Linked DNA regions of Homo sapiens: region 2 is linked to region 1. Evidence: fine-mapped expression QTL. A gene starts in region 1. The other region holds a variant in brackets. All regions are shown on one strand. Distances are between the middles of the regions.

Evidence for each region. PIP is the estimated chance that this variant, and not a neighbour inherited with it, causes the effect.
Region 2: its variant is fine-mapped to the expression of MRNIP in testis (GTEx, PIP above 0.99).

Annotation. Positions count from the first base shown.
Region 1 is chr5:179,852,447-179,863,413 of GRCh38, reverse strand. It overlaps MRNIP (MRN complex interacting protein), which reads left to right and starts at 4,597. Exons shown (of 7, transcript NM_016175.4): 1 at 4,597-4,683; 2 at 9,977-10,036. The coding sequence starts at 4,618. TBC1D9B (TBC1 domain family member 9B) reads left to right here. Exons shown (of 21, transcript NM_015043.4): 21 at 1-1,343. MRNIP-DT (MRNIP divergent transcript) reads right to left here and starts at 4,411. Exons shown (of 2, transcript NR_134283.1): 1 at 4,202-4,411; 2 at 2,131-3,384. RefSeq lists silencers at 4,036-4,165, 5,066-5,175 and an enhancer at 4,236-4,435.
Region 2 is chr5:179,829,173-179,840,139 of GRCh38, reverse strand. SQSTM1 (sequestosome 1) reads right to left here. Exons shown (of 8, transcript NM_003900.5): 6 at 6,894-7,108; 7 at 6,358-6,553; 8 at 2,062-3,704. The coding sequence ends at 3,547. MRNIP (MRN complex interacting protein) reads left to right here. Exons shown (of 7, transcript NM_016175.4): 7 at 2,255-2,864. The coding sequence ends at 2,749. Among named protein-coding and RNA genes, the nearest start is that of SQSTM1, 14 kb to the right of the region's middle. RefSeq lists enhancers at 3,146-3,295, 3,077-3,371. The variant C/T (reference allele first, on the strand shown) is at 5,548.

The DNA.
Region 1 (10,967 bases):
TCAGTGGGGCTGGCCTCATCTCCTCCTGCCTTTCCTCCCTTATCAGTTTCTCTTTAAAGGTGTGCCCCTCCTGCTCTCCCAGGAGCAGTGAGTTGTGAGTGGAAAGAAGGCTGGTGCAGACCCAGCTGCCTTAGACAGATTCCCTGGGCCTGCATCTCCTGGCGCCGGCTGCTTCTGGGCCCAGGAAGAGGCTGTGGCTCCCACCTTCCTTACACCTGGTGGGAGCCCGCCTCGCACCAGCTGCACCTGCCTAGCATTACAGGCTCTCAGATCTGCCCTTGCTTGCCTCATACCTCTGTGCTCCACACTGCGGCCAGGCCAGCTGAGTCCCTCCATCCGTGGATGCTTTCCTGCAGCTATGTGGTATGGGGGTCATTCCTGCCTCTTGGCACCAGGTTGGGGGGCATGTGCTTGTTGGGCACCAAAGTGATGGAACCCTCAGGTGCTCTCCGGGAGCCTGAACCTCCTGACTGAGGAACATGGGCAGAACATGTTTATTGCACAGAGTGGGCGCTGCGCACAGGCGTGGCTGTACACGTGCTCTCAGCTCATCATCCTTTCCAGTAACTTTAAAAAAACATCCCTCAGGTCCTGATATATTTCCTTGGATTCATTTCACTTGGCTAGAAATTACACTGTGCTCAATGCCTTAATAAATCCCTGAAAGAAATAAAAACCACTGTGTGCAATGCCTTGCTGTGGCCCCCAACCACTGCTTAGGCCTCCCAACTTCTCCCCAGGCCAAGTATGGGGCCCTGGCTGTGTTCTGGAAGTTCAAGACACTTAGTCCTCCACAGTGGGTGGAAGAGTGCAAGGTCTGCCAGGTCAGATGGAGACGCAGAACCTGCTGGTGCAAGCTGGGCAGGTCCTGACCAACCTGCATCAGGGGATGCCCTGAGCTCCACAGGTCTTCATGGGCAGGGGTTGTGGGTCCTGGTGAAGGAAGTGCATCCTCAGGCCTGGGCTGTAGCAAGCTGTCTGCCCTTGGGTTCAAGAACCAGACTGTGGAGCCAAAGGTGACCGCAGGGGGCCCCAGGGCTGGAGCCACAAGGATACCCTCACTTTGCATGAGGAGCTGAAACTGACCAGTGTCCAGTGTTAGCCCCCACATGGGGCTGCTCTTGCTTCTACTAAAAGATACAGCAGTTACCCCCTTATCCACAGGGGATACAGTGGATATCTAAAACCAGACCCCCAGTGGATGTCTAAAACCACAGATAATAACAAACCTTATACATACTGTTTTTTCCTATGCATACATACCTGTGATTAAGTTTATGAATTAGGCACCTTAAGAGATTGACAACAATAACTAATAATAAAATGTAACGGTTATACTGTAATGAAAGTTGTAAATGTGGTCTGTCTCACAATATCTTCTTGTACTGTACTCATCTCTTTTCCAGGTGGCTGTTGACTCTGGGTAACTAAAGCTGCAGAAGGTGAAACTCAGGTACTATTGTATATCTCTGTGGCTGCTGTTTTTGTTTTAATTAAGTAGCTTTGTTTTTTTGTTTTTTTGTTTTTTTGTTTTTTGAGACCAAGTCTTGCTCTGTTGCCCAGCATGGAGTGCAGTGGCGTGATCTCAGCTCACTGCAACCTCTGCCTCCTGGGTTCAAGCAATTCTTCTGCCTCAGCCTCCCAAGCAGCTGGGACTACAGGCGTGCACCACCACGCCCAGCTAATTTTTCTATTTTTACTAGAGATGGGGTTTCACCATATTGGCCAGGCTGGTCTCAAACTCCTGACCTCGTGATCCACCCGCCTCGGCCTCCCAACATGCTGGGATTACAGGCGTGAGCCACCATGCCCGGTCTGCTTGTTTGTTTGTTTTAGAGACAGACTGGAGTGCTGTGGCATGACCATAGCTCATGGCAGCCTCAAACTCTTGGCCTGAAGTAATCCTCCTGCCCCAGCCTCCCTAGTAGCTGGGACTACAGGCATGAACCAGCATGCCTGGCTTCAATTTCCTTTCTAGTATTTACACAAAGTACCATAAAATAATTTCAAATGATTTATACCAAAAAGACCATTGTTGGCCTTAATATAATTAAGATATAATAACCCCACATATTTGGCAATTTTAAGTCTTACACTGATTATATTCAATTAGATTTGAATAACTTGGAATTTGGATAAATGGCTTTTTATTTCCCATTTTTTGTCTTTACAGAGGTAAGATAAATGTTTTTAATATATGGAAGTATAAGCTTGTGAATACACCAAAGAAATTAACCAAAGAATAGGAAAGAGGAATCTGGCCTATTCACGTGATACAATGTACGAAAATGTACAATAGTACTTTAATCCATAAATCATTCAACCTGGGAAGATAACTCAAAATGTTTAACAACCAGAACAGTAACATTAAATAATATATAGATAATACAAATAAAAAATTTAAATTTTATAAGTAAACATGAATATTTTAAAACTGCTTACCAAGTAATATAAGTTGCATCAAACCACTCATCAAATCATTCTTATAATTTCCAAGAAAAAAAACTATATACATGAATTTTTAAAGGATTACCGGTTCATTGCCAAAAGGAGAAAAATATACAGAAAAGTAGAACAATTTTTCCTAGTGCTACAGATTACTCAGTATTTTGGTGTTTATTCTGTATTTTTTTTCAGAGTTTAACTGATGTCATATATGAAATTTTTATTCTACTCCTTTCATTAAGCATAAAACATTTTTTGCAGATGCTTTCTGTTCTCAGCCACAGTAGCTCAAACGTAGAAATGAAGGAAAACCACCCAAATGAGAAACAGTATTCAGAGCTTGCTACAGCAAGGGAGTCAGCAACATCCCCGGTGTGGGTAGGCGCAAGGACGCAGGGGGTGGAAAACGGGGAAGGCTCCAGGTGGTTCTGACCGCAGGCTGTTGGAAACTGGAGGTGAGCTAACAAGAAGCAGGATGTTTTCTGTGACTGGTTTGGGGAGCGCTTTCTTGGGTTGGTTCTGACATGGGGAGGGTGGTACAAAAAATAGAGGAGCAAGCAGTCCTGACCACGTCCTTCCCAAGCAGCCGACTGCCCGGTTACTGCAGAGGCTGCAGTCAGTTTATTGTCATTCGTTATCTGACCATTGTCTATTGGCATATTGTCTCTCAATTTTTTTTTCTAACTACTTACTGTACAAAAGTTGGAAAAATTTAAAAATTAGCATTACCTACGACCTTAGCCACACACACACACACACACGCCAGAAAATAATGCCGGTGTCACAGAAGTCAAACGATGTACTGTAATTCTGTAACCTTGCCTCTCCACAGCACGTTGTCACTTCAAACTCAGGTTCTTGCTGATGGAACTGCCTAAGAGTCCGTGCCGTTCTTCAGAACACTGATTTCCATTTCTTCCTAGTATTCTTCAGGGAACACTAGGGAATGAATAATAAATCACCTAGGTGAAGGGATTCCTTTCTTGGGGTAGCAGTATTGCCAGGTTGCTTTCCACGGTTTTGCACTTGACCGTTCTCCCAGCACCCTGTCAGAGGGGTAGCCCTCCCTGCACCCTTGTCAGGATTGGGTGTTTTCTTCAACGGGATGGTTTCTGCTGTTAAAAGCGAGTGTCGGCCGGGTGCAGTGGCTCACGTCTGTAATCCCAGTACTTTGGGAAGCCGAGGCGGGTGGATCACCTGAGGTCAGGAGTTCGAGACCAGCCTGGCCAACATGGAGAAACACCGTCTCTACTAAAAATACAAAAATTAGCTGGGCGTGGTGGCGGGCATCCGTAATCCCAGCTACTGGAGAGGCTGAGGCAGGAGAATCACGCCACTGCACTCCAGCCTGGGCGACTGAGCGAGACTGTCTCCAAAAACAAAAAACAAAAAAAAAACACCTCGCTTTTTTGGTGATAGTCACTGTGTAAAAGTTGGAAAAAAAATTAAAATTACAACCCTAGACACCGAGGGTTGTACGGTGGGAGGTAATTTTAATATTTTTTGTATTTTATTTTCCAACGAGGTTACAACCCTAAGCCACACAGGGTTGCGGCGTGAGCGTCGGGCTGCGGGGGCGCCTCCACCCTCCGTAGGGTGGGCCTGGGACGCTCCCGGGGCTGCAGGGGGACCGGCTTCGCGCTCGGCGGCCGCGCGCCTCCGCCGCCCTCTCCGGGAAGCGTGGGTGTGGTGAGCCCCTCCGTCTCCCCGTATTCCACCCCGGGCTCCGGTTCAAAGGCTAACTGTTCGCTGCTACCTAAAAGCACGGCAGCGCAGGCCTGGCAGGGCGGCCCCTCAGCCCCGCTCCGCGTTGTGTCCAAGGACTGGTCAGCGGAGGCCCTGTCGTCTCAATTCCAGTCTCCCCAGGGCCGGAACCAGTGCCTTAGGAAGATGCGGGCACGGCCCTGGTCAGACGACGAGTCGGCTACCAGGAATCCCGCACCCAGGACTCTTTCCGAGGTCGGAGGGGCGCAGATGACCAGCGAGAGGCGCGGCAGGCTAGAGGGATCCCAGTGCGCAGGGGCGGGGCCGCGGCGGCCGGAGCGAAGAGTATAAGCGCATGCGAGACGGCGTAGGGGACTAGAGGGTTCGGAGCGCGTGCGTGGGGCGGGGCCGCGGCGGGACAAATGCAGAGCGCACGCGCTTGGCTGCCTGGCGACTGCACAAGCAGGGATGGCGTCGCTTCAGCGTTCTCGGGTGCTACGCTGCTGCAGCTGCCGCCTCTTCCAGGCGCACCAGGTCTGGCGGGTGCCAGCCCCCTCCTCCTCCTCCGGCGCGGGGACAGCGGACGGGGAGTGGCGGGGCTGTGGGTGTTGTCTCGAATGGCTCCGGGATGCACCGGGCCCGAAGGAGTGCAGGGACCGCTGAGGGCGGGTCTCATTGGGGTCGCCCCCGCATAACGTTCTGAGCTTTTTGTTTGGTTCTTGTACAAACCAGAGGTAATGGTTCTGCGGAGGTGGCCTCTTGTGAATTGTAGCAGGTAGTGGGAGAATCCGGTTGAGTATAGCATCCTTTACGCAGAGCCTACCCCACGAAGTAGCGCTGTCGCAGTTTCAGTGAGAGGGGGAGGACGGTTCTTAGAGACCGAGCGCGCCGCGGCGGCGTCCCTGCTCCACACCTGGGCGCCCTCTCCGTCGCCCCGCGCCTCTGCCGCCGTCCGTTTCCGCGGGGCCAGGGACTTGATATGGCTGTTCGCCGACGCATAAACCACGGGCCCCGGAGTCTTAAAGACAGATAATCTGTGTTTCTAGGACATATTTGCCTCCCTAACTTTCAGCGTGCCAGATAGAGAATGCCACTTAACCTTTTCCGGATCGCACCTGTCTCCCTGCTTGATATCACTTAACACTGCAGTCACCGTATCTGCTTCTGATAGTCCCTCCCTCCTAATTATTGGTAATCTGCTATGCCCTGAGAAAGAATAGCATCAGACTTCTTCTTCTTTTTTTTTTTTTTTTGAGACGGAGTTTCGCTCTTGTTGCCCAGGCTGGAGTGCAATGGCGCGATCTCGGCTCACCGCAACCTCCGCCTCCCAGGTTCAAGCAATTCTCCTGCCTCAGCCTCCCGAGTAGCTGGATTACAGGCATGCGCCACCATGCCCAGCTAATTTTGTGTTTTTAATAGAGACAGGGTTTCTCCATGTTGGTCAGGCCGGTCTCGAACTCCTGACCTCAGGTGACCCGCCTGCCTCGGCCTCCCAAAGTGCTGGGATTACAGGCGAGAGCCATTGTGCCCGGCGTGGATCAGACTTGTTTAAGAGGTATGTTAAAAAGTCAGCAAGATGCTGAGTATGTGTCTGTAAGCTTGCATTTAATGCTAAGCGTTTGTAAGGGCCATTTTAAGGGCTCAGAAACTTTTTACTTATTTTCTTTCGGGAGCTGGGTCCTAAGAGTTGCAAATAAAGGGAGATCATTTGCATTTTTAAATTATTCCACGTCTAATGTTTCATGCTGTTTTTTAAAAACAAATTTTCCGTTTATTTTTATTTCCTTTTTTTGTTTTTGAGACAGAGTCTCACGTCTCACTCTGTCGCCAGGCTGGAGTGCAGTAGCGTGATCTCGGCTCACTGCAACCTCCGCCTCCTGGGTTCAAGCGATTCTCCTGCTTCAGCCTCCCGAATAGCTTGGATTACAGGCGCGCGCCACCAAGCCCAGTTAATTTTTGTATTTTTAGTAGAGACGGGGTTTCACCATGTTGACCAGGAAGGTCTCCATCTCTTGACCTCGTGATCTGCCCGCCTCGGCCTCCGAAAGTGCTGGGATTACAGTGCTGGTGTTACGGGTGTGAGCCACTGCGCCCGGCCTCTATTTCCTTGTTTGTTTTCCTGTTTCACTCTTCCATGTTCACCAGTGTTATTTATTTATTTATTTACTTATTTATTTTGAGACAAGGTCTCGCTTTGTCGCCCAGATTGGAGTGCAGTGGTAACAATCACAGCTCGCTGCAACCTGCATCTCCCGGGCTCAGCTGATCCACCTCAGCCTCCCACGTAGCTGGTACTACAGGTGTGGGCCACCATCCCCAGCTAATTTTTATATTTTTTGTAGGAATGAGGTTTCGGCCGTGTTGCCCAGGCTGGTCTGGAACTCCTGGGCTCAAGTGTTCTTCCCGCCTTAGCTCCCAAAGTGCCGGGACTACGGGTGTGAGCCAGCGCCCCTGACCCTCGTGGTCATTTTCAACCTTATGAAATGTGAGTTGCTTGGCCCCGGTGGCTCACGCCCATAATCTCAGCACTTTGGGAAGCCCACTAGGGCAGATCACTTGAGCTCAGAAGTTCCAGAGCAGCCTGGGCAACGTAGCGAGACCTTGTCTCTACTAAAATTCAAAATAAAATAGCTAGATGTAGTGGCGCGCATCTGTAGTCCTAGCTACTCAGGGTCGCTGAGGCAGGAGAATCGCTTCAGTCCAGGAGGTAGAGGTTGCAGTGAGCCGTGTTCACACCACTGCACTCCAGCCTGGGCGACAGCCAGACCCTGTCTCAAAAACAAAGAAAAATTACTTGAAACCAAAGAGGACGGCAAGTCGGCTATGTACTACTTTAATTTTAATTGCAAGTCGGCTGTGTACTACTTTAACACGTTTAACTTCAACAACCTTTGACTTAGGCATCATTCCCATCTTAGAGACATGAGAATTCCGAAATACACGGGAATCAAGTGGTTTCTCCATCTAGGGAGTGGCAGAACCATACTATCTCAGCAGTTCCCACAATTAATTCCTTTACCAGGTTCTGTGAGTCCTAAACTTTTAAAAAGGCTTTTCTTGGCCGGGTGCGGTGGCTCACACCTGTAATCCCAGCACTTTGGGAGGCCGAGGGGGGCAGATCATGAGGTCAGGAGTTCGAGACCAGCCTGGGCAATGTTGTGAAACCCCGTCTCTACTAAAAATACAAAAAATACAGGTCGTGGTGGCGGGCACCTGTAATCGCAGCTACTTGGGAGGCTGAGGCAGGAGAATCACTTGAATCCAGGAGGCAGAGGTTGCAGTGAGCCGAGATCACGCCACAGTGCTCCAGCCTGGGCAACAGAGCCAGACTCTGTCTCAAAAAAAAAAAAAAAAAAACAACTTTTCTTACTTGTTTATATACTCATAGAAAATCCACAGTTTTATTGGTGTTTTAAGGTAGAAGCTGAGAAGTAAAATTGCTAAGTCATTACCCAGTTCAATTTTTGGTAGGTGCTCATTGTCCTCCTTAGAATCCTTTTGGATACTTCCCCCGAAAACCTCATGATTTTGTATTAGGATCATATTAATCGTATTAATGTTAATGGATCAACCTAGACATCTTTGTGGTGTTAAACATGATCCATTACGTTTCTTCAAGTAACCTTGGTATCCCTTGGTAACATTTTATTTGTTGCTGTTATAAATGGACTCTTTATCAATTATGTGTTCTAATTAGATGTCTGCTCATATAAAAGCTATATTAATTTTTGAAGGTATCTTAATTTTGTACCTAACCACTGTATTAGACTATCTGGTTTTAGTGGCTTCTCATTTCATTATGTTGGTTTTCGGATAAAAAATTATGTCAGGTAGCAGCCGGGCTGGTGGTTCATGCCTTTAATCCCAGCACTTTGGGTGGGTCACTTGAGGTCAGGAGTTCGAGACCAGCCTGACCAACATGATGAAACCCTGTCTCTGCTAAAACCACAAAGTTAGCCGGGCGTGGTGGCACGTGCCTGTAATCCCAGCTACTTGGGAGACTGAGGCAGGAGAATCTCTTGAACCTGGGAGGTGGAGGTTGCACTAAGCCGAGATCTCACCATTGCACTCCAGCCTGGGCAATAAGAGCGAAACTCCGTCTCAAAAAAATTAAAATTAAAATTAAAATTAAAAAATTGGCTTTTCTTTGGGAGGCCGAGGTCTGCAGATCATTTGAGGTCAGGAGTTATTTCAGGTATTATAATTATGTCTATAAATAATGATAGGGTTTTCCGCTCCTTTATAATTTTTATACATCTTACAACTTTCTTCTAATTCCATTGGCTAGTACATCCAGAAAAAAATGGTAAATAATAGCGGGCAACCCTGGCTTGTTCTTGACTTCCATGTGGAATGCTGGTAAAGATTCTCCAGCATTAGAGTGGGTTTTAGGCATTTTATATGTTAAGAGAGAACACATCTAGTCAGGTTTAACAAGAATTGAAAATAAATGTTACGGAATTTTTTTTAGACCCAAGTTTAACAAGAATTTAAATATTATGGAATTTTTTTTACAGCTTCAATTTGAGTCTTACGGAGTGTTTTTGTTTTGTTTGGATTTGGTTTTGCGAGACAGGAATATTATGGAATTTTTTTTTACAGCTTCAATTTGGGTCTTTCAGAGTGGTTTTGTTTTGTTTGGATTTGGTTTTGTGAGACAGCCTCTTGCCATGCTACCCGGGCTGGCCTCAAACTCCTGGGCTCGAGTAGTCTTGGCCTCCCTCGTCGCTGAGACTACAGGCTCAAGCCACTGTGCCCAGCCCAATTTGATTGTGTTTCATACAGATAGCCAGTTTTCCCAGCACCAACCCGGACTTGTTAAATAGTCTGTTCTTTTCTCACTTTTAAAGTACCACCTTTATGATTATGATACGCTAAATGTTTACACATGCTTTGGTTTGTTTCTGGACTCCTTCCATCAGTTTTTAAAATTATTTCAGGCCAGATCCAGCCCTGGTGGCTCACGCCTGTAATCCCAGCACTTTGGGAGGCCGAGGCGGGTGGATCACCAGGTCAGGAGATCGAGACCATCCTGGCCAACACGGTGAAACCCCGTCTCTACTAAAAATACAAAAAATTAGCCAGGCGTGGTGGCGGGCACCTGTAGTCCCAGCTACTCGGGAGGCTGACACAGGAGAATGGCGTGAACCCGGGAGGGGGAGCTTGCAGTGAGCCGAGATTGCGCCGCTGCACTCCAGCCTGGGCAGCAGAGCCAGACTCTGTCTCAAAAAAAAAAAAAAAAAAATTATTTCAGGCCAGGCATGGTGGCTCACACCTGTAATCCCAGCACTGTGGGAGGCCAAGGCAGGTGGATCACTTGAGGTCAGGAGTTTGAGAACAGCCTGGTCAACATGGTGAAACCCCATCTCTACTAAAATACAAAAATTAGCTGGGCGTGGTGGTACACACCTGTAATCCCAGCTACTTGGGATTTAAAAAAAAAAAATTTCAGATCCAATTCCATTTGTTTTTTGTTTGTTTGTTTGTTTTTTTGAGATGGAGTCTCACCCTGTCGTGTAGGCTGGAGTGCAGTGGTGCAATCTTGGCTCACTGCAACCTCCACCTCCCAGGTTTAAGCGATTCTCCTGTCTCAGCCTCCTGAGTAGCTGGGATTACAGGTGCCCGCCACCATGCCTGGCTAATTTTTGTATTTTTAGTAGAGACTGGGTTTCACCATATTGGTCAGGCTGGTCTCGAACTCCTGACCTTGTGATCTGCCCGCCTCGGCCTCCCAAAGGGGGATTACAGGCATGAGCCACCGAGTCCAGCCCAATTCCATTTTGTTTTAAATAATTATCTGAGTTGTATTTCTGAAATTTCATTGCAGGTAAAAAAGAGTGTCAAGTGGACATGCAAAGCTTGTGGAGAGAAGCAGTCCTTTTTGCAGGTGAGTCCTACAAAACAGAAAGCAAGTGGGGCGCAGGCCTGCAGCGAGCCCTTCCAGGGAGTCCCAGCATGCCACAGCTGGGATCATCCTCTCTCAAACAGAGTTCCCCAGACACGGAGCTCCTGCTTCCGAGCTTCCTGTTCCTTCAGGAAGTGAAATGGATGGAGCAGAATCTGGAAAGGTACTGCCATTTGATTCTTCATTCAGCAAGTATTTCTTGAGTACTTTCTGTGTGCCAAGCACAAGGGGAACAGTGGAAAGTAAGCCCATTGTCATTCTTGCCCTCACAGATGCACTTGTGTGGAAGGGGAAGAGAAACTAATGCACACATGCATCTGCATAATTTAAAACTCGGCTGAGCACAAGGAAAGGAAAGCACTGGGGACTGTGAGAAGATGACAGAGGAATCAGGGCAGCCGGGGAAGGGCAGAGGCCGTTGGTGGAGGTGGAGGTGTGGGATAGTGGGCTCAGGAAGTGGAGGCAGGCAGGGGCAGGCTGTAAATGCTCTCATCCAGCTGTTTGCAGCTGGCATTCAGTACGTCTTTTCAGTCCATCCGTATTGCCCCTCCTGAACTCTAGGACCCCAAACTGTCCTGCATCCTTTGCCTTACTGAACTTGCTCTTTTCCTGCTCCAGCCCCAGTGCCACCTCTCCCTTCACCTCTCATCTTTCCTCTCCTTCTACAGCCATGTGCTTTCTTTCTGACCTTAAACCCAAATTTGCTCCCTCTTCAGGCCTTTGTGCTCACTGTGGAGTTCCCCTCCCTCTTCTCAGTATCCTATGGAAGTTACATAGTCATGTGTTTATGCACGGATTGTCCATCTAAGGCTGTAAGTTCCGTGAGAACAGAGGCTTTTTATTTGCTGGTGTATCCGCAGCACCTAGCACAGTGCTCGGTGTTTGTGGAGTGAGTAAGGAACTGGCCCAACCT
Region 2 (10,967 bases), 23 kb after region 1:
GGTGAAACCCCATCTCTACTAAAAATAATTAGCTGGGCGTGGTTGTGCACGCCTATAATCCCAGCCACTCGAGAGGCTGAGGCAGGAGAATTGCTTGAACCTGAGAGGCATAGGTTGCAGTGAGCTGAGATTGCATCACTGCGCTCCAGCCTGGGCAACAGAAAAAAAAAATTTTTTAGAGACATGGTCTCACTATGTTGCCCAGGCTTGTCTCAAACTCCTGAGCTCAAGCAATCTTCCCACTTCCCAAAGTGCTGGGACTATAGGTGTGGGCCACTGCGCCTGGCCCATTTGTCTTGTTCTTGAAGCTTCCAGTCCAGCAGGCCCCACCGCATATCCAGTGCTGCAGAGTGCAGGGTTTGCTCTGCCTGTCAGAGGAGCCAGGGCACAGCAAGGGCACTGCAGTTGGGAGTCCACTGGGCGTCAGTCACTGCCCCCACCCCCACATCAGCCAAGGTCGGTCTCCGCTGGCCTTGCACCACGCACAGAGCACTGGCTCATGCCAAGAAGCAGAATTCAAACTTTGATGTTGCCGCCAACTAGTTTTGTGATCCTGGGTAAGTAAGTGGCTTTGAATCTCCAAATCCTAGAAGAATGACCAGAGAGTCTGCCACGGGCCAGTCCCTGGGCTGCATGTTGTAATGGTATCATTGTGTTTCATGCTCCCTCAAGCCTGTTGCTTTGTTTTAAAGGTGAGGAACTGAGGCTTGCAGTTTTTGTGCAGTCATGGCAAGTTCAGTGGCAAAGCCAACGTCAAGTTTCAGGGCCGCAGAGCCTCTTCTGTACTGCCTGGGTGGCAGTGCTGCAGGGACCCACTCTATCGCTGCTTTCACATTGCTTTTCCCTTTGTAAGCAGCACAACCCAACTGTTGTTTTTTTTTTTTTTTTGAGTAGGAGTTTCACTCTTGTTCCCCTGGCTGGAGTGTAATGGCACGATCTTGGCTCACTGCAACCTCCGCCTCCCAGGTTCAAGCGATTCTCCTGCCTCAGCCTCCTGAGTAGCTGGGATTACAGGCACCCGCCACCACGCCTGGCTAATTTTTGTATTTTTAGTAGAGACAGGGCTTCCCCATGTTGGCCAGGCTGGTCTTGAACTCCTGACCTCAAGTGATCCACCCGCCTCGGCCTCCCAAAGTACTGGGATTACAGGCATGAGCCACTGCACCCAGCCTTTTGTTTTTGAGATGGGGTGTCACTCTGTCACCTAGGCTGGAGTGCAATGGTACAATCACACCTCATAGCAGCCTCCATCTCCCGGGCTTAAGTGATCCTCCCGAGCAGCTGGGATCACAGGCACTCACCACCACAGTTGGCTAATTTTTTGTAGAAGAGGGGGTTTCACCATGTTGCCCAAACTGGTGTCAAACTCCTGGGCTCAAGCAATCTGCCTGCCTCAGCCTCCCAAAGTGCTGGGATTCAGGCATGAGCCACTGCTCCCAGCCTACAACCCAACTTTCTTTTTTTTGAGACAGAGTTCGCTCTGTTGCCTAGGCTGGAGTGGAATGGCGTGATTTCGGCTCACTGCAACCTCTGCCTCCCAGGTTCAAGTGATTCTCCTGCCTCAGCCTCCCGAGTAGCTGAGATTACAGGCGCGTGCCACCACGCCAGGTTAATTTTTGTATTTTTAGTAGTGATAGGGTTTCGCCATGTTGGCCAGGTTGATCTCGAACTCCTGGCCTCAGGTGATCTACCTGCCTTGGCCTCCCAAAGTGCTGGGATTACAGGCGTGAGCCACTGCGCCCGGCCGACACCCAACTTTCAGAGCATCTTTGGTTCCTGGGGTGAGAGAAGCCAGACCCCAGCACCAGTCCTATCCCACAGGGAGCTCGGTGCTGCCACCTCTGCAGCTGCAGAACCCGGCAGGCTCTGGAGAGCTGCCCCCCGGTGGGAGGTAGCAGAATGGAGCCAGCGCACCCCTTTCCCGATGTCTCGAGGCCCTTCTGCTCAAAATTCTTTTGTAGGCACCGGTAACCTGATTCTAAGGTCCCCAGGAGATGGATCACCTGATGACATGAGAATGTCTTGTTTTTGGAAAGCCTGGTCATGCAATTTAGCAGAAGGTTTGCGGTGAGGTGGAAGGCATTTATTTGCTTTGTCTTGCTAACCCTCAAAATCAAAGCCTGTCCCAGCCTGACAGCTTCCAGCAGAAAGTGTCAGAACCAGAGGCCCAGCCAAGGCCCAGGCAGGGCAGGCGGTCCTCCTGGGCCCTGGCATTGTTCTTACACATGGAGGGCATGGCCATCTTCTCTTTCAGGGACAGGCTGGCCTGACATGGAAGGTGAAACAAGGCAGCAGCCCCTGCCTCCAGGAGAACTCTGCAGACTGCAGTGCCGGGGAGCTGAGGGGTCCTGGGAAGGAGCTATGGAGTCCCATCCAGCAGGTTACAGCCACATCCTCTAAATGGGCGCAATTTGTCCTGCCACCTAGAAAAAGTTCACATGTGGACAGTGAGCAGCCAAGGTCTCTTCAGAGGGACCCCAGGCCAGCTGGTCCAGCACAGGCTAAGCAAGGGACCCCCAGAGCACAGGCCTCAAGAGAAGGCCTCAGCAGGCCCACTGCCGCTGTCCAGCTTCCTCGGGCCACACACCCCGTCACATCTGGGTCTGAGAGGCCTTGCGGGAAGACCTCATGGGACGCAAGGACTCCCTGGGCAGAGGGTGGGCCCCTGGTCCTGGAGGCACAGAATCCTCGACCCACACGACTATGTGACCTCTTTATAACTGGGGAAGACTTCGATGATGATGTGTGATCTGGGACTGGCAGGTTATTAATCGAGATACACTTGTTAGGAGGGACAGGGTTCCCCTAAGGCACTTTTAAAGATACTCTGTAAGAACCATTAACAATAAACTTACTGTCAATCATTTCTCTCTATGCAAACGTCATTGGTTAAAGTGCTGATGCCATTTAATTAGATTGTTTACAAATTTAACAGGATGGCTACAAAGAGATCTTATTTTAAAAGCAGCTGATGGTTTGGAAATGAGAGAACTACAGTGGTGAAGAGACCAGGAGGCAGCTCTCAGTGAAACCAACATTGCGGATGCCCTTCGTGAGCCTTCTCAGTCCCAGCAGGAAGCCCACAACACTGGCCTCCCCAGCCTGCCTGCTGACAACACCTAGGCTTACTTTATCTAAAATCAGAGTGTACCAGGTCTGTAGCAGAAAATAATCAACTAAATGTCAGGGACCTATGAGTCATTTAAAACAAAAGAGAAAGTGAAAGCCATTAGGCAAGCTATGTGCTGGGCTGCTAACGTAGCCCCTGCAGGGAGGGGTCAGGAGCGCGCTGCAGTGAGCCTTGGGTCTCGCAGGCCCAGCCCTGCTGCAAGGAGCCAGGGCACCCAGGAAACATCAGCACACACACACACAGGGACCCTCCCTTCATGTCACTTGTTTTGCTGCCCTAAATGGCTTCTTGCACCCTAACCCCTGATCCTGGAAGAAGGCAGAGAAACTGGCCCGTACAGAGACCTGCAATTCTACGCAAGCTTAACACAACTATGAGACAGAAGAGGGGCACGCAGAAGAGGTGGGCAAAAGTGGTCACAACGGCGGGGGATGCTTTGAATACTGGATGGTGTCCAGAGCCGCTCCGATGTCATAGTTCTTGGTCTGCAGGAGCCTGGTGAGCCAGCCGCCTTCATCAGAGAAGCCCATGGACAGCATCTGGGAGAGGGACTCAATCAGCCGCGGGTCAGCCTCTGCCGAAACAGTAAGGAAGCCATGAGGAGTGGTGCTGAGCCCTGTGAGTGACCCGAAACACATACCCTGCTGCCTTGGCCAGCCAGGACCAGGGTCTGCCAGTGTCCGAGCCTGCCCAGAGCTCTCGTCCTCACAGGCCACAGTGGACCTGCTTTCCCTGTAAAGGGCCAAGCAGTCTTTTTCACACTGCTCAACTCTGCCACTGCGACACCAGGCAGCCAGGTGGTGTGTAAGCAGAACCATCAATGGACACTGAAATAGGCATTTCACCTGTCACATCTTTTGATTTTAAAATGTAAGAACAGGCCAGTTAGCCAATTATTACACTCCTCCATGCAAGAGATGATGGGGCATTGAAATAGATTGAAGATGGAGAGAGATGAATGGATACAAGATACATTTTGGAGGTAGAATGAACAGGACTTGGAAATGTATGTGGAGAAGGCAAAGGAGTTAAAGATGATATCTGGAGCAGCACAACTCACAATTGCAAAGATGTGGAACCAACCTAACTGCCCATCAAGCAATGAGTGGATAAAGAAAATGTGGTATATATACACCATGGAATACTACTCAGCCACAAAAAGGAACGAAATAATACCTTTTGCAGCAACTTGGACGGAGCTGGAGGCCATTATCCTAAGTAAAGTAATTCAGGAATGGATACCAAATATCATATGTTCTCACTTATGAGTAGATGCTAAGCTATGATGATGCAAAGACATAAGAATGATATAGCTTTCCCTCTCCCTCTTTCTCCACGGTCTCCCTCTGATGCCGAGCCAAAGCTGGACTGTACTGCTGCCATCTCGGCTCACTGCAACCTCCCTGCCTGATTCTCTTGCCTCAGCCTGCCGAGTGCCTGCGATTGCAGGTGCGCGCCGCCACGACTGACTGGTTTTCGTGTTTTTTTGGTGGAGACGGGGTTTCGCTGTGTTGGCCGGGCTGGTCTCCAGCTCCTAACCACGAGTGATCCGCCAGCCTCGGCCTCCCGAGGTGCCGGGATTGCAGACGGAGTCTGGTTCACTCAGTGCTCAATGGTGCCCAGGCTGGAGTGCAGTGGCGTGATCTCGGCTCGCTACAACCTCCACCTCCCAGCTGCCTGCCTTAGCCTCCCAAAGTGCCGAGATTGCAGCCTCTGCCCGGCCGCCACCCCGTCTGGGAAGTGAGGAGCGTCTCTGCCTGGCCGCCCATCGTCTGGAATGTGAGGAGCCCCTCTGCCTGGCTGCCCAGTCTGGAAAGTGAGGAGCGTCTCTGCCCGGCCACCCATCGTCTGAGATGTGGGGAGCGCCTCTGCCCCGCCGCCCTGTCTGGGATGTGAGGAGCGCCTCTGCCTGGCCGCGACCCCATCCGGGAGGTGAGGAGCGTCTCTGCCCGGCCGCCCCGTCTGAGAAGTGAGGAGACCCTCCGCCCGGCAGCCACCCCGTCCGGGATGTGAGGGGCGCCTCTGCCCGGCCGCCCCTACTGGGAAGTGAGGAGCCCCTCTGCCCGGCCACCACCCCGTCTGGGAGGTGTACCCAACAGCTCATTGAGAACGGGCCATGATGACAATGGCGGCTTTGTGGAATAGAAAGCGGGGAAAGGTGGGGAAAAGATTGAGAAATCGGATGGTTGCCGTGTCTGTGTGGAAAGAAGTAGACATGGGAGACTTTTCATTTTGTTCTGTACTAAGAAAAATTCTTATCCTGTTGATCTGTGACCTTACCCCCAACCCCGTGCTCTCTGAAACATGTGCTGTGTCCACTCAGGGTTAAATGGATTAAGGGCGGTGCAAGATGTGCTTTGTTAAACAGATGCTTGAAGGCAGCATGCTCCTTAAGAGTCATCACCACTCCCTAATCT[C/T]AAGTACCCAGGGACACAAACGCTGCGGAAGGCCGCAGGGTCCTCTGCCTAGGAAAACCAGAGACCTTTGTTCACTTGTTTATCTGCTGACCTTCCCTCCACTATTGTCCTATGACCCTGCCAAATCCCCCTCTGCGAGAAACACCCAAGAATGATCAATAAAAATAAATAAATAAATAAACAAAAATAAGAACTACTCTTGGCCCATAGGCCATAGCTCGCCATCCCCTGCCCTAAGGCAGAGAAGACACACAGCGGCGGCCCACAGCAGGTTGTGCACACGGACCTTGGTTTACACACGGCTGCCATGTGACAATGAGGAGTTTCTGTCAGCTGTCCCCACCCCCCACCCCCCCACTGCTGCCTGCCACACCATCCACTTCAACGGTGGCTTCTGCCTGGCTCCTACAGGGATCTTGGCTATGACCCCCCCCCCTCTCAGACCAGCACTCCCTGAGGCGGCACTTGAGTGTGAGTAGTAGGGACACACCCAGTGCTGCCCCCTCTCTGTGTCACACCTGCCTTAATTCCTGGTCTGCATGTTAAGTTTTAGAAACTCCTACAATTAATATTCCTGGCTCTGGAGTTTGCCTAAAGAAAAACATTTTCAGAACTGCATTAGCAGAGCTTACTCGCTATTGCTCAGGGTACACATAATAGGACAAAACCAACTCCTAACCTCCCACACCTACAGACAGCCCTGCAGTGGAGAACATCTCATCCTTCTGTTTGTGTCGCTGAAATCAGAGGAGGGCAGGATGCTCTAAAGGGAAAGGTAGGAATATGTACAAAACCTCTTGGTTCACTTGCCTGGCGGGAGATGTGGGTACAAGGCAGCTTCCTTCAGCCCTGTGGGTCCCTCCTGGGAGGGGTCCAGAGAGCTTGGCCCTTCGGATTCTGGCATCTGTAGGGACTGGAGTTCACCTGTAGACGGGTCCACTTCTTTTGAAGACAGATGGGTCCAGTCATCATCTCCTCCTGAACAGTTATCCGACTCCATCTGTTCCTGGAACAAAACTCACCATGAGCACACAGGAGACACGCGCAACAGGCCAAGCCTGACCATGGCCCTGGCTCCTGGCAGACAGTCGGGGAGCACGCATGCACACGTGCAGTTAAGGCTGCAGGGGTCTAGGGGGAACAGTGGCCACTCACAAAGACCAAGTAACTACAAAGTTCTAGCAGGTTCCCAGCGTGACTTTAATGGCACAGACATCACTGCAGCAGCAGCAGCTCCCTCGGGTTTGTAAGTGGGGCTGCAGAGGTGCTGAGGATGAGGCGGAGGTGCAGGCCACAGATCACTAGGCTGGCCGTGGTCCCAGGTGGCGGGAGGGGCACAGGCTTGCCTCAGGGCGCCCCTCGGACTCCAAGGCGATCTTCCTCATCTGCTCCGCCAGAGACTGCGTGGCGCCCTCAACATTCCCACCCGGCTTGCTGGGGTCAGAGCAGCAGCTGCTTGGCTGTGAGCTGCTCTTCTCCTCTGTGCTGGAACTCTCTGGAGAGACGGGGGTCAGGCGGCTTCTTTTCCCTCCGTGCTCCACATCGATATCAACTTCAATGCCTAGAGGCGGAGGAGGAAAGAGCAAGCCGTGAAGTTCCCCCAAGGATGCACCTGCAAGCAGGAGCTTGGCCTGTGGAGACTACAGACTCACGAAGATCTCAACGTTCAGTCCCCACAAGCAGCTAAGTGTCTGGATGGTGGCACTCAGCGTGTGGATGCAGGTGCTAGGTTCTACCCAGCTCGACCCCGCAATCACACAGCCAGTATGGGACCAGACGATACAAACCCATGAGTCAGAGGCTTCTCCCCATATCCCAGCTACAAATCTCTGTGGCTTCTGGAAACATTCTTGGTGGGCCCATGATACTGGACCTTTCTCTTTCTCCAATTCAGTAAAACATTAACCTCAGCTAGCATCTAAAGTCAGCTTCTGAGCCAGAAAGTCGAAAGAGACCTTTTTCCTAACCATGCAGGACACGGGCCACACGGCAGGTGGGGCCAGGCCCTAAGTACAGGGAGAGCCAATACCACATGTGGCAGGCGCTTCCAGCCACAGTGATGGAAGGCCATGTGCCTCCTGACACCTGCACACAGAGGCTTTGTGCGACGACACACACGCACACCTCAACGCCGGAGCTCTGCTCTGGGAGGTGGATGGGCCGTGCAGGCGCTGCGTAGGGCCCAACGCTGGCCCCACAGGGAACCTGCACACCTCCAGGCTCACGTGACTCACCAGGGACAGAGGGGAGAATCACCTGCACTATTTTTGAAATTAAATGTGTCAAAAGTCTCCACACCCACAGCTTAGAGTCACCAGTTGCCAAAGGCTGTGGTGCACACTCCCTGCCCCCATCCCACTCCCCAAACTCTCCCTGTGCCCTTTCAGCTCACGCTGCTCTTGCCTGCTGCTGGAGTTCACATCTGCGCACTTCCTACTCTGGACCAGTACCTGCCTCTCCTTCCACTACCCTTTCCAAGACGCAATTTTTTGTTAAAAGAACATTCAGTAGGCCGAGCGCAGTGGCTCACGCCTGTAATCCCAGCACTTTGGGAGGCCGAGGCGGGCGGATCACGAGATCAGGAGATCGAGACTACCCTGGCTAATATGGTGAAACCCCGTCTCTACTAAAAATACAAAAAATCAGCTGGGCGTGGTGGCAATCGCCTGTAGTCTCAGTTACTCGGGAGGCCGAGGCAGAAGAATCGCTTGAACCTGGGAGGCGGAGGTTGCAGTGAGCCAAGTTGGCGCCACTGCACTCCAGCCTGGTGACAGAGCAAGACTCCATCTCAAAAAAAAAAAAGAACATTCAATGTTTCAGCTAGGACCTCTATCTAAATGTTCTTTGCTGGGTCAAGTAGCAGACTATTTCTTTGTATCGCTTTTTGTTTTCCTACCACTGATAATGGCTTCTCTTTTCCTTTGTTTTGTAGACAGAGTCTCGCTCTGTTGCCCAGGCTGGAGCGCAGTGCCGCAATCTCTCGGCTCACTGCAGCCTCTGCCCACCAGGTTCAAGTGATTCTCCTGCCTCAGCCTCCCGAGTAGCTGGGACTATAGGCACGTGCCACCACGCCCAGCTAATTTTTATATTTTTAGTAGAGACGGGGTTTCACCATGTTGGCCAGGCTGGTCTTGAACTCCTGACCTCAGGTGATCTGCCTGCCTTGGCCTCCCAAAGTGCTTGGATTACAGGCATGAGCCACTGCACCCAGCCTGCCTTCTCTTTGCATTTGCTAACTTTCCCTATGTTCTCCCACAGCATCTCCATAGTTTTCTACAAGGGTGAAGTGGATCAGAGACCCCACTGGTTCTGGTGTTTTCCATAGAGAGTGCCGCTTGCTGTGCAGCCTCCTGTTCCAGCCAGGACTGGCAGCTCTCTGGGCAGAGGCTGCGCTGTGATGCTGTGACCCCCTTTACGTTCACCCTCTGTCCTGTTAGGTCCCCCGTTTCCTAATACCTCTGTGCTTCATTTTGGGTTTCTCTCTTCATGTGGTTCAAACCAAGGTTAAAATAATTAAGACTGTATACCAGAAAGTAACTTTGTTCTGCCCTGATACTTGATCGTTTTAGCTGGGTATAGAATTCTAGGCTGGACCAGGCACAGTGACTCATGCATGTAATCCTAACACTTTGGGAGAACAACATGAGAAATCTCTTGAGCCCAGGAGTTCAAAATCGGCCTGGGCAGCATGGCAAGACCCCATCTCTACAAAAAAATTTTAAAATAGCTGGGCACGGGGCTGGGCACAGTGGCTCATGCCTGTAATCCCAGCACTTTGGGAGACGAAGGCAGGTAGATCATGAGGTCAGGAGTTCAAGACCAGCCTGGCCAAGATGGTGAAACCCCATCTCTACTAAAAATATAAAAATTAGCCAGGCATGGTGGCGGGTGCCTGTAATCCCAGCTACTCGGGAGGCTGAGGCAGAAAATTGCTTGAACCCAGGAGGTGGAAACTGCAGTGAGCTGAGATCACGCCGCTGCACTCCAGCCTGGGCGACAGCGAGACTCTGACTCGGGGGTGGGGAAAGAAAAAGAAAAAAAAAAATATCTAGGCACAGTGGCACATGCCTGTAGTCCCAGCTACTGGGGAGGCTGAAGCAGAAGGATCACTTGAGCCCACGAGATGAAGACAACTGTACCACTGCTCTCCAGCCCAGATGACAGTGAGACCCGGTTTCAAAAACAAAAGAATTCTAGGCCGAAAAGCCTTTTTAACTGATTTCTGGAGTCATCAGTTGTTCCATTGTCTCCTAGCTGTTCATGTTTGTTTGCTCTTTGTATTCCCAAGTATTTACAATAACCTAGAGTTTTAGAAGCCCCTCTTTCTTTATCCTCAGGGTTCTGACACTTGACAATGATAAGCTTTGCTGTGGGGTCTTTCTCAGTCATTGTCAGGGCCGCTTTCAATCTAGAAGATAATGGCCTCATTGCCAAGAAACTATCTTGCATTTTTGTTTTTTGTTTTGTTTTGTTTTGTTTTGTTTGAGACAAGGTCTGTTTCTGTCTCCCAGGATGGAGTGCAGTGGTACAATCCAGGCTCGTTGCACCCTCTGCCTTCCAGGCTCAAGCCATCCCCAACCTCAGCCTCCCACGTAGCTGGGGCCATAAGTACACAACTCCATGCCTGGCTAATTTTCATAGTGTTTGTAGACACGGGAAGTGGGGGATGGTGTCTCCCTATGTTGCCAAGGCTGGTCTCAAACTCGTGAGCTCAAGTCATCTGCCTGCCTTGGTCTCCCAAAGTGTTGGGATTACAGGCATGAGCCACCATGCCTGGTGCCAAGAAACTATCTTGCATTCTATGTTCATTTCCTCCTTTCAGTTTTCTATTCTTTCTGGAATTCCTACTCATCCTATATTGGGCTTCTAGACTTGTTCCTACATTAGGAGGAGAGGAAAGATAAAAAAACTATCTCTATTTTGCTTTTGGAATATCTCCTTGAGACAATAGTAGAATCTAAGCCTTCTTTTGAAGTTTTTTTTCTATTTTTTAATTTTAAGAACTTTCTTATTCTGTTCCCTTTGTTATCCTTTTTCTAGTATCCTGTTCCTTTTTCATGCAGACAATGCTCTTTTGTATCTCACTGAGGACATTAACATTCTCTTCCCTTTAAGACCTTTTCTCCCATGTGTGGGGGCTTTCCTCAGATGGCTGGTGACCCAGGGGTCTGATCCCACTGAAGCACTAAGGTTGACAGGAAGCCTTCTGTGGGGCCAGCGCCATCACTAACTTTCCCTCTGCAGGGTGCCTGGGGGTCTGGCAGGCAGGAGCTGTAGGACACTTCTCTGGGGGCATTCAACCTCCCTCAGCAGGGACTCCCCACCTCCTGCCTGGCCAGGGAACTGACTGCTGGGCCCATTGCTCATTCGGGATGCCCAGTTTCAGGCTGGTGCCTCACCCTGGCCTGTCTCTAGTATCC